Linked DNA regions of Homo sapiens. The protein of the gene in region 2 interacts with the protein of the main gene of each other region in a biochemical or structural test. Each region holds a gene or a part of one and is shown on either strand. Other genes may lie near its edges.

What was found. Proteins that work in one complex are often made in the same cells at the same time.
Region 1: the proteins of PREX2 (region 2) and RASSF6 interact in a test that uses a peptide from one of them, tested with the Homo sapiens proteins (one large-scale study listed by IntAct).

The regions. Positions count from the first base shown.
Region 1 is NC_000004.12:73,582,428-73,586,080, forward strand, and holds part of RASSF6 (ras association domain-containing protein 6), read right to left. Parts: intron 2,938-3,653; coding exon 2,753-2,937; intron 2,407-2,752; coding exon of another isoform or gene 2,392-2,406; exon of another isoform or gene 179-2,391; intron 1-178.
Region 2 is NC_000008.11:67,950,475-67,954,227, reverse strand, and holds the start of PREX2 (phosphatidylinositol 3,4,5-trisphosphate-dependent Rac exchanger 2 protein), read right to left. Parts: upstream 2,183-3,753; 5' UTR 1,834-2,182; coding exon 1,693-1,833; intron 1-1,692. UniProt on the Homo sapiens protein: Functions as a RAC1 guanine nucleotide exchange factor (GEF), activating Rac proteins by exchanging bound GDP for free GTP.

The DNA of each region.
Region 1 (3,653 bases), on a different chromosome or scaffold from region 2:
TTTCTTTGTTGTTTTTGAATATTATGTGTTCTTTTAAGCAGCTTTATATTGTTTCTAGAGTAAATTAGGTAAAACACCATTTGAGGATGCTTATAACATTTTCACTGGACAATTACACCCCTCTTTAGTGCAGTTTAAGATTTCAAAATAAGTAAGAAAGAATGTCACCAGATGCATATTTAAAAACGGATAGAGATATTAAGTAAGGATTTATTTCCACATATTTTATTTATATGCACAATCTCCAAGTATTCCAAGGCTCTGTAGAAATGGGGTGGGTTCAGCAGATGTAGAGATGGGTGGGTTTTGGGGTGGCTCATTGGACTGTTAAAAAGATAAGTCCTATATTGAGAGATCAGTAAATTAACATCAAAGTATACAGACACAAACATTTATAACACCCACACATGTAACACGCACACACACACACACGGCATTTGTGTGAGTAAAAATGTGGATATGTAAATAAGTTTTCTGAGAAGATGTGTGGAGAGTGTCTAGGATAAACTTTTATAAGTATGAGAAAATTCAATATTTGTAGACATTTTAGAGCATTGATAAGTTATTCTGTGACATTTACGATTTCTATGGAGCCCTGAAAAACCACATGTTCATCCTGCGCTAAGGTGAATATGATATGTTGTACACGTGGTTTGATGTTGTTTATGTGAAGAAGCTTCATGCACTATGACAATAACATGGATTACCATTCAGGAGACCTAGATTTTAGTGCCCACTAAATGCCCACGAACTCCAACTTTGTCAACTCATTTAACATCTTTATTGACTCACTTAACATATATTTGATAAATGACTTCATTTATAAAATAAGATAGTAAGACTAATCTCTAAGAGCTCTTCTAAAATGTCAACATATAGTGAATTTGTTTTTCAGAGCAGTATTTAAATCTATAGTCTTTATATCAGTTGTGTTGGCCAAAACATATAATGAAACCTGCTATCATTTACTATCACATTGATAGAAATATACTACTGGTCAAGTTATATTCACCATAACTAATCTCCAGATATGACAATCTAAGCCTTTAATATGTGTGTTATTCATAGCCTAACAATATTGGCATTAACAAGGGGCTTCATAGTATAAAAACATATCTTACGACACACAGCAACTTAAGAAACATATCCACTAAAATTCCTAGATGTCCGTCATTGTATAATTGTTGATAGAATGCTTTGTTTTTTCTTTTTTGTTTGTATTGTTTTCTGCTAGTTATTAAATTGCAGTGAATGACATTTGTGTAAAATATCTATAGTCCCAGCTTGAGCTCATTCAATCAACAGCAACAACATAAGCTAATGTAGACCGAGTTCTTTTGTGCCAGGTACTATTCTTATGCTGAACTTACCTCATTTCATTCCATCCCATCAACAGCCTTGTAAAGTAAGAAGAATGAAACTTGCTCAGCAAGAATGTAAAACCAGGCTGTCAAGCTCCAGGGCCCAAGCATTTAACCACCATTCCGTGCTGCCAACCTAGTGTCAATTTCATTTCCAGCACAAGTGATCCAATCTGAAAGCCACTTGCTTGGAGCAATGTGGCTTTCCTTCTTCAACACAAATTACCCCACAAGATAATGACATACAACACAATTTCTGTGAAGAGGGAAACAGGACAATTGGTAGGTACCTCTCTGTGGGGGACTATCAATGCTACTTTATAGCTATGAGAATGATTCTGGAACCCTAAAATTCTGATATGAATAAATAATTGAGAAGAGAGATTTCTCCCCACCAGGCTCCAAAGACACACTATCGTTACCCCCCAAGGGTAGAAGAAGAAGAAATAAAGTAGAAATCCTTACAGGAAAAAGCCTACAAAGCAATGAGTTCCTATTTCTTATTAAAGGCCTCAGAAGATACCTGGCACAGTGTAAGTGCTAAGTATTTATGAGATGGAGCGATGAATGATTGCTAAAGTACATCACATGAAAAATATTTGAGTTCTGGAAAAAAATGATGATATATTTCCTACCTTCAGCAAAATGTAATGTCTTACAAGCACTATGGAAAGGCACATATAAATTTAACACATATTCAGTGAAAAAGCAGAATGTGAATTGTATCTAAACTACAACTACACTTATATAAAAACGGTATGTGTATAGGTAAAAGACCTGGAACATGGCAACATGAGAAGTTTGATTTATTGGAATAAATTGGCCTGTGGCTTTTTCCTTTTATTTAAATGTTCACGTTCAAATGTCCTTTGATCCAACCACTTTGTAGCACTTACATTATTCCAGTATTATTGTTGGTATGTTGGTTTCCCTGCTCAATCCCTGAGCTCCGTGCTGGCTGAGACATCGGCTGCCTCATCTGCATGTTTTTAATACTTGGCACAGTGATAGAGTTCACCCATCATGGTGGTTAAAAACTTGTGTTCTGGAGTCAGACAAAGCTGGGTTCAGGTTGAGAGTTACTACTTAAGAGTAGCATAATCTAAGACAAATTGCTTAATCTCCATAAGCCTCAATTAGCTTATATGTCAAGTAAAGAAAATAATGGTACCTATTTCATAGGATTGTTTTAGTGATTAATAAGATAATTCAGTAAAAATCTATTTAAAACACATTTACTTTAATATCTAGCACATAGAGAGTGCCCCCAAGATGTTAGACATGCTACTGTTATTATTATGACTTTAAATTGTGAATTGAATTGGGTGGTATTGTTAGTGAAACAGGGAACCTTATTTTATATTACATTAATGGAATTGTAACTCACTTACTTCATGGTTATAGAAGTGTCCATTAATAGAGGCTCTATTTTTCTGTCTTTCTTTTCTGTCCATCATCAGAGGCTTCATCCTTTTTCTCACCAGAGCTGCTTCACTCATGGTTCTATAGAGCACTGGGGAGTCTGGTTCATCCTTTGCATGTGGCTTCAGGGTGTTGCTGTGATAAGATAAATAGTCTGGGAAGAATAGATTATAAGCTCATATCATTCAGCTGCCTGTGTCCTAGCATCCTGAGTGGATTTGTGTATGCTTTCATTAATTTTAGGAATATTGCTATTTTCTGGCTGTGTAAAAGCATTATAGTCCACTGCTTAGCTGCATATTTACTTATTAAATGTTGCCTGAGACTGACTCAGCAAATTCTGCCAGTATCTCATATAAAATTCTTATGTCTCATTCTTATGTTTCATAAGAAATGATCACAATGATCATGTTTGGGGTTTGGGCATTCCTTTAATCTTAATTTATTGGGGAGTGCATTTTGTGGCATTTCAGAGTGTTAGAGCTGGAATAAACCTGATACTTTATCAGGTTTGATCTCTTACAGGTAAGAAAAAGTACAGTGAGTTGAAGTGGCTTTCCTATGGACATAGTACTCATAAATGATAGAATCAGGTCTGGATCCTTATTTTTTTATTTTTATTTTTATTTTATTATTATTATACTTTAAGTTTTAGGGTAATGTGCACAATGTGCAGGTTAGTTACATATGTATACATGTGCCATGCTGGTGTGCTGCACCCATTAACTCGTCATTTAGCATTAGGTATATCTCCTAATGCTATCCCTCCCCCCTCCCCCCACCCCATTATATGTTGGCCCAAGTTCTTTGGAGCTTTTCCTAAAAAATAAACACTGGGCCTTAGTTTTCCTATAAAACTACAGAAAGCTC
Region 2 (3,753 bases):
GAGATAAAAAGAAATCATGAAATGATGTTCTCCTTATAAAAGGGGAAAATTTATTTTATACTTTCCACACTTTCTTACCTAACTCTATATACTAACAGTAAGTTTTCTGTTGTAATGATCAGGTTTAAGATTAGAAGAAAAACTGATATTTTAAATAAAGATCAACAAATTGGTTTTTAATATAATTAGATTAACTGTCTCTGCAAATTAGCATTCTGCACAGTACTTTGTTCACAGATCTTCAGAAAGAGTAATTATGTAAGAAATGACTCAGATTCTTCAAAAGACAAAGAACTTTGTTACCAAAAAAGTTTCATGAAAGCCAAATTTAAAGCTATTAAAAATCAAATCTTAAAAACATACTTTTTTGACAATCTTTGTTACAAGGAAGTATATAATAATTCTATAAACCACCAGTTACCAGGATATTCTCAAATACCTGTATATTTGCAGAGAATGTGGCCCCTGGAAGTCAAGTATATTGATTTTGAGAAGTCAACCATAACGCAGCCTGTACATTTTACATCACTTGAGACATTTTTCTTTCCTTCTTGCCACAGCCAAGAAGTGAATTTTATCTGTCATGATTATAAGCAGAAAGTTGACAGATTTCAGAACACTAAGCAGGAAGTTTGGCACCTGAAATATTTTCCTTCAGACCAAGGGGGCATGGAATTGGTTGTTGGAAGGAGAAGGATTTGGATGAGATCACAAAAACTAAAGCTCCTGGTTCTTTGAATGATGCTCTCCCAGGAATCTGGGTGGAAAGAAGCCAAGGCTCAAATTCTTTGTCTTTTCAGCAATGAATAGGAAAAATTCAACTTTTGAGTGTTATCTCAGCAGTTACTTTCACTCAGTTTTGCCCCTTCGGCCCTAAAATGAATGAGACGTTTTCAAAGCAGATGGCAGTGAGTCAAGCAGAAACGTGGAATATAAGTACATCCCCACTTCCACGAAGTCCCGAAGCTTGATTACAGCACTCTCATGGGCCATGTAAACAGGGGACCAGAAACTGAGCAGAAGACAGATTTAAGCCGGGGCGGGGGGCGGGGGGGAGGGAATTGTAAGACTAGGACAGGGTGAGCGCCACATGTGGCTTTAATATCCAACAGCTGCTAGAGATCATCACCCCGCTGCTCTCTCTGTACCCCTACACCAGAATCCTCTGTCTCAAAGACCATAACTAAAGCGGCCACTGCCATGTTATCTGAGTAACGAACTCAAGCTCGAGCACATTCAAGGATTTTTTTTAACTTAGTGTACCTGGATGTAGCCGACTGGACCTTTAATCACAAAACCAAAGCTTTAAAACAAAGTCTCCAGGAAAGAACAAGAAGGAAAATCAATTACACAGTGCACTTGAGCAGACTGGGGAGGCGGGTAAAAGAAAAGTGAGGGAAGATAGGGCAGCCGGGATTCCCTGGACTGGAGCTCTCTTCTCTAGAGCTAACTTTTCAGACCTGGAGGTCTCCAAGGCCCCCGCAACTCAGTGAGTCTCGGGGCACCAACAAATCCCCGCGGGGGTCACCGCGCCCGCGAACGCAGAGTCCACACGTGGATTCCCGCGCCTGTGATGCCCCGACCCGTCCCGGGTCCCCGCACAGACAATGCCGCGCGTCCTTCCCGCAGCCACTCCGGGACCCGCGCCCCGCGCCGCCCGGACGTCCCCCTGCGTCTGCCGGGGACACTCACCGACACCAGGAACTCCAGCGTGCCCACATAGTCCCGCTCGGTCTTCTGGAGCTCGCTGAGCACGCACACGCGCAGGCGAAGCTGCTTCTCCAGGTCCTTGGCGCTCTCGGCGCGGCTGTCTCCGCGGCTGTCCTCGCTCATGGTCGGCGGCGGTGCGCAGCGCGGCGCTGCCCGCCGTGCTGAGCGCTGACCCGCGCGCCCGCTGCTGCCCGGCCCCCGGCGGCGAGAATGGAAAGTTGCCGCCTCCGCCAACTCCGAGGAGAGACAGAAGACTTTACATGCTGGGGAGAGGCTGGGCGCAGGGAGAGGAGGGGATCGGGCTGAAATCCCGGCGCGGGGGGCGCGGGGCTCTGCAGAGGAAACTCCTGGGAGTGGGGGCTCCGGCCAGGCCCTGCGCGCCCGGCCCCGCTGCTCTGGCCTCACACGGCCGGGGCTGGAGGGGAAGCGGCTTCGGCAGCCACAGCAGTGACTTGGACATTAATCAAAAGCTTTGTATCCATGTGACTCCGACCCTTTACCCTTCGCCAAATCTCAGGAAAAAGGAAACACAACCCTGGGGAAGTACTGCGTACTGGCTAATCACACACACGCGCGCGCGCGCACACACACACACACACGCACACACACACACACACACACACACAGCAGCACTTGATATGGAACTCACAGGAGGTTCCCAATCCCAGGGACACACACTCCAAGGCGCAGCTCGAGGGTTACTCCTAAGCCTCCGCTATTGTTTAACTTTAATGTGTTTCGTACAAATCCTGAAAGCAAAGAAACAAGTCCCCACGGTTACATAACTGGATGGGAACAAAAACAACCACGGTATTGACCCTCCCTCTTTGAAAAGAAACACATTGATTTTTTGTTTCATTCAGGCACAAAACAGGTTTGCTTTTAAAACCCTCCAACTGAGAATAGTTCACAGGGCAGACACCCTCCAGTCTGAGCTTGGAAAGTCAATTAGCATAATAAATGAAGACACTATGGGAAAATGACAGCCTCTGCCCATGCAATAAACCCCAGATAAAATAAGCATCACCCTTGTACTGTGCTGTTTTCCATGTCTACAACTTTTTTCAACATCAAGATAGTATGTAAATCCATTGAGAGGCGAGGGTATTTGTGCCAGTTTTGTTTCTAAGAGCTGCTGTGATTTAAGACGGTGTCACTAATTGAAAAGATAAAGCTGTTGTTGAATGCTCATCAGAAGATAGAAAGCTAGATAGATAACGGAAATAATCTTAGATTTTTGAAGATAGACACACAGAACATTCTTGATTTTAAAGTTAAAGTTTATTGCCTTTTCTCACTTGGAAACTAAGCCTTAAATATTTCCAATACATTTAACAAACAAAACAATTTATATATTTTTTTGAATTGGTATTATACACATATATTTTCCACAGATCAACTTCAGTCTAAAACTAATGGCATTTAAATAAACTGAAGAGTGAATAGAGTTGTTGCAAGAAAGTGGTATGTTAATTTGTTGCAGTCACTGAAAGCATTAGCAAAACTCTAAAACATAAAGATGCTTTTCACTATATTTACATTAAAATAATTACCTATTGGTTTTCCAGATGATGTCTTTCCAGAGCATAGTGTGACCATTCCCCTCTGTAACCACACAAAGAAGGATTGTACTTTCTTTGTATATTAAAGATAAAATTTTCGAATGATGTACACAAAGCTGATGGGCAAGATGTGATTTTCCTCTTTCTTTTACAAATGACTATTTAGAGGTAGCCAAGAGCAAAGGGCAAACAACATAGATGGCTTCACACCCTGTGGCAGAAGAACAAAGGGCAAAGCATATTAAAGAGCAGACCTCACAGCACCTAGTAAACAATAAACAAAAGAAGCGGAAGACATAGGAAGCACACATCCAGAAATGAATGGGAAATGCAAGCATGACTGAACCTTCTCCCCATGTACTACAGGCAGCATTTCTTCCTCCCCAGGTCTGCACCTTTCCCTAGGGAAAAAAGCAAATAAATAAAGCAACTTTCTATCAGTTGTTCTCCTACATAAAATAGAATCTCTTGTACTAATTGT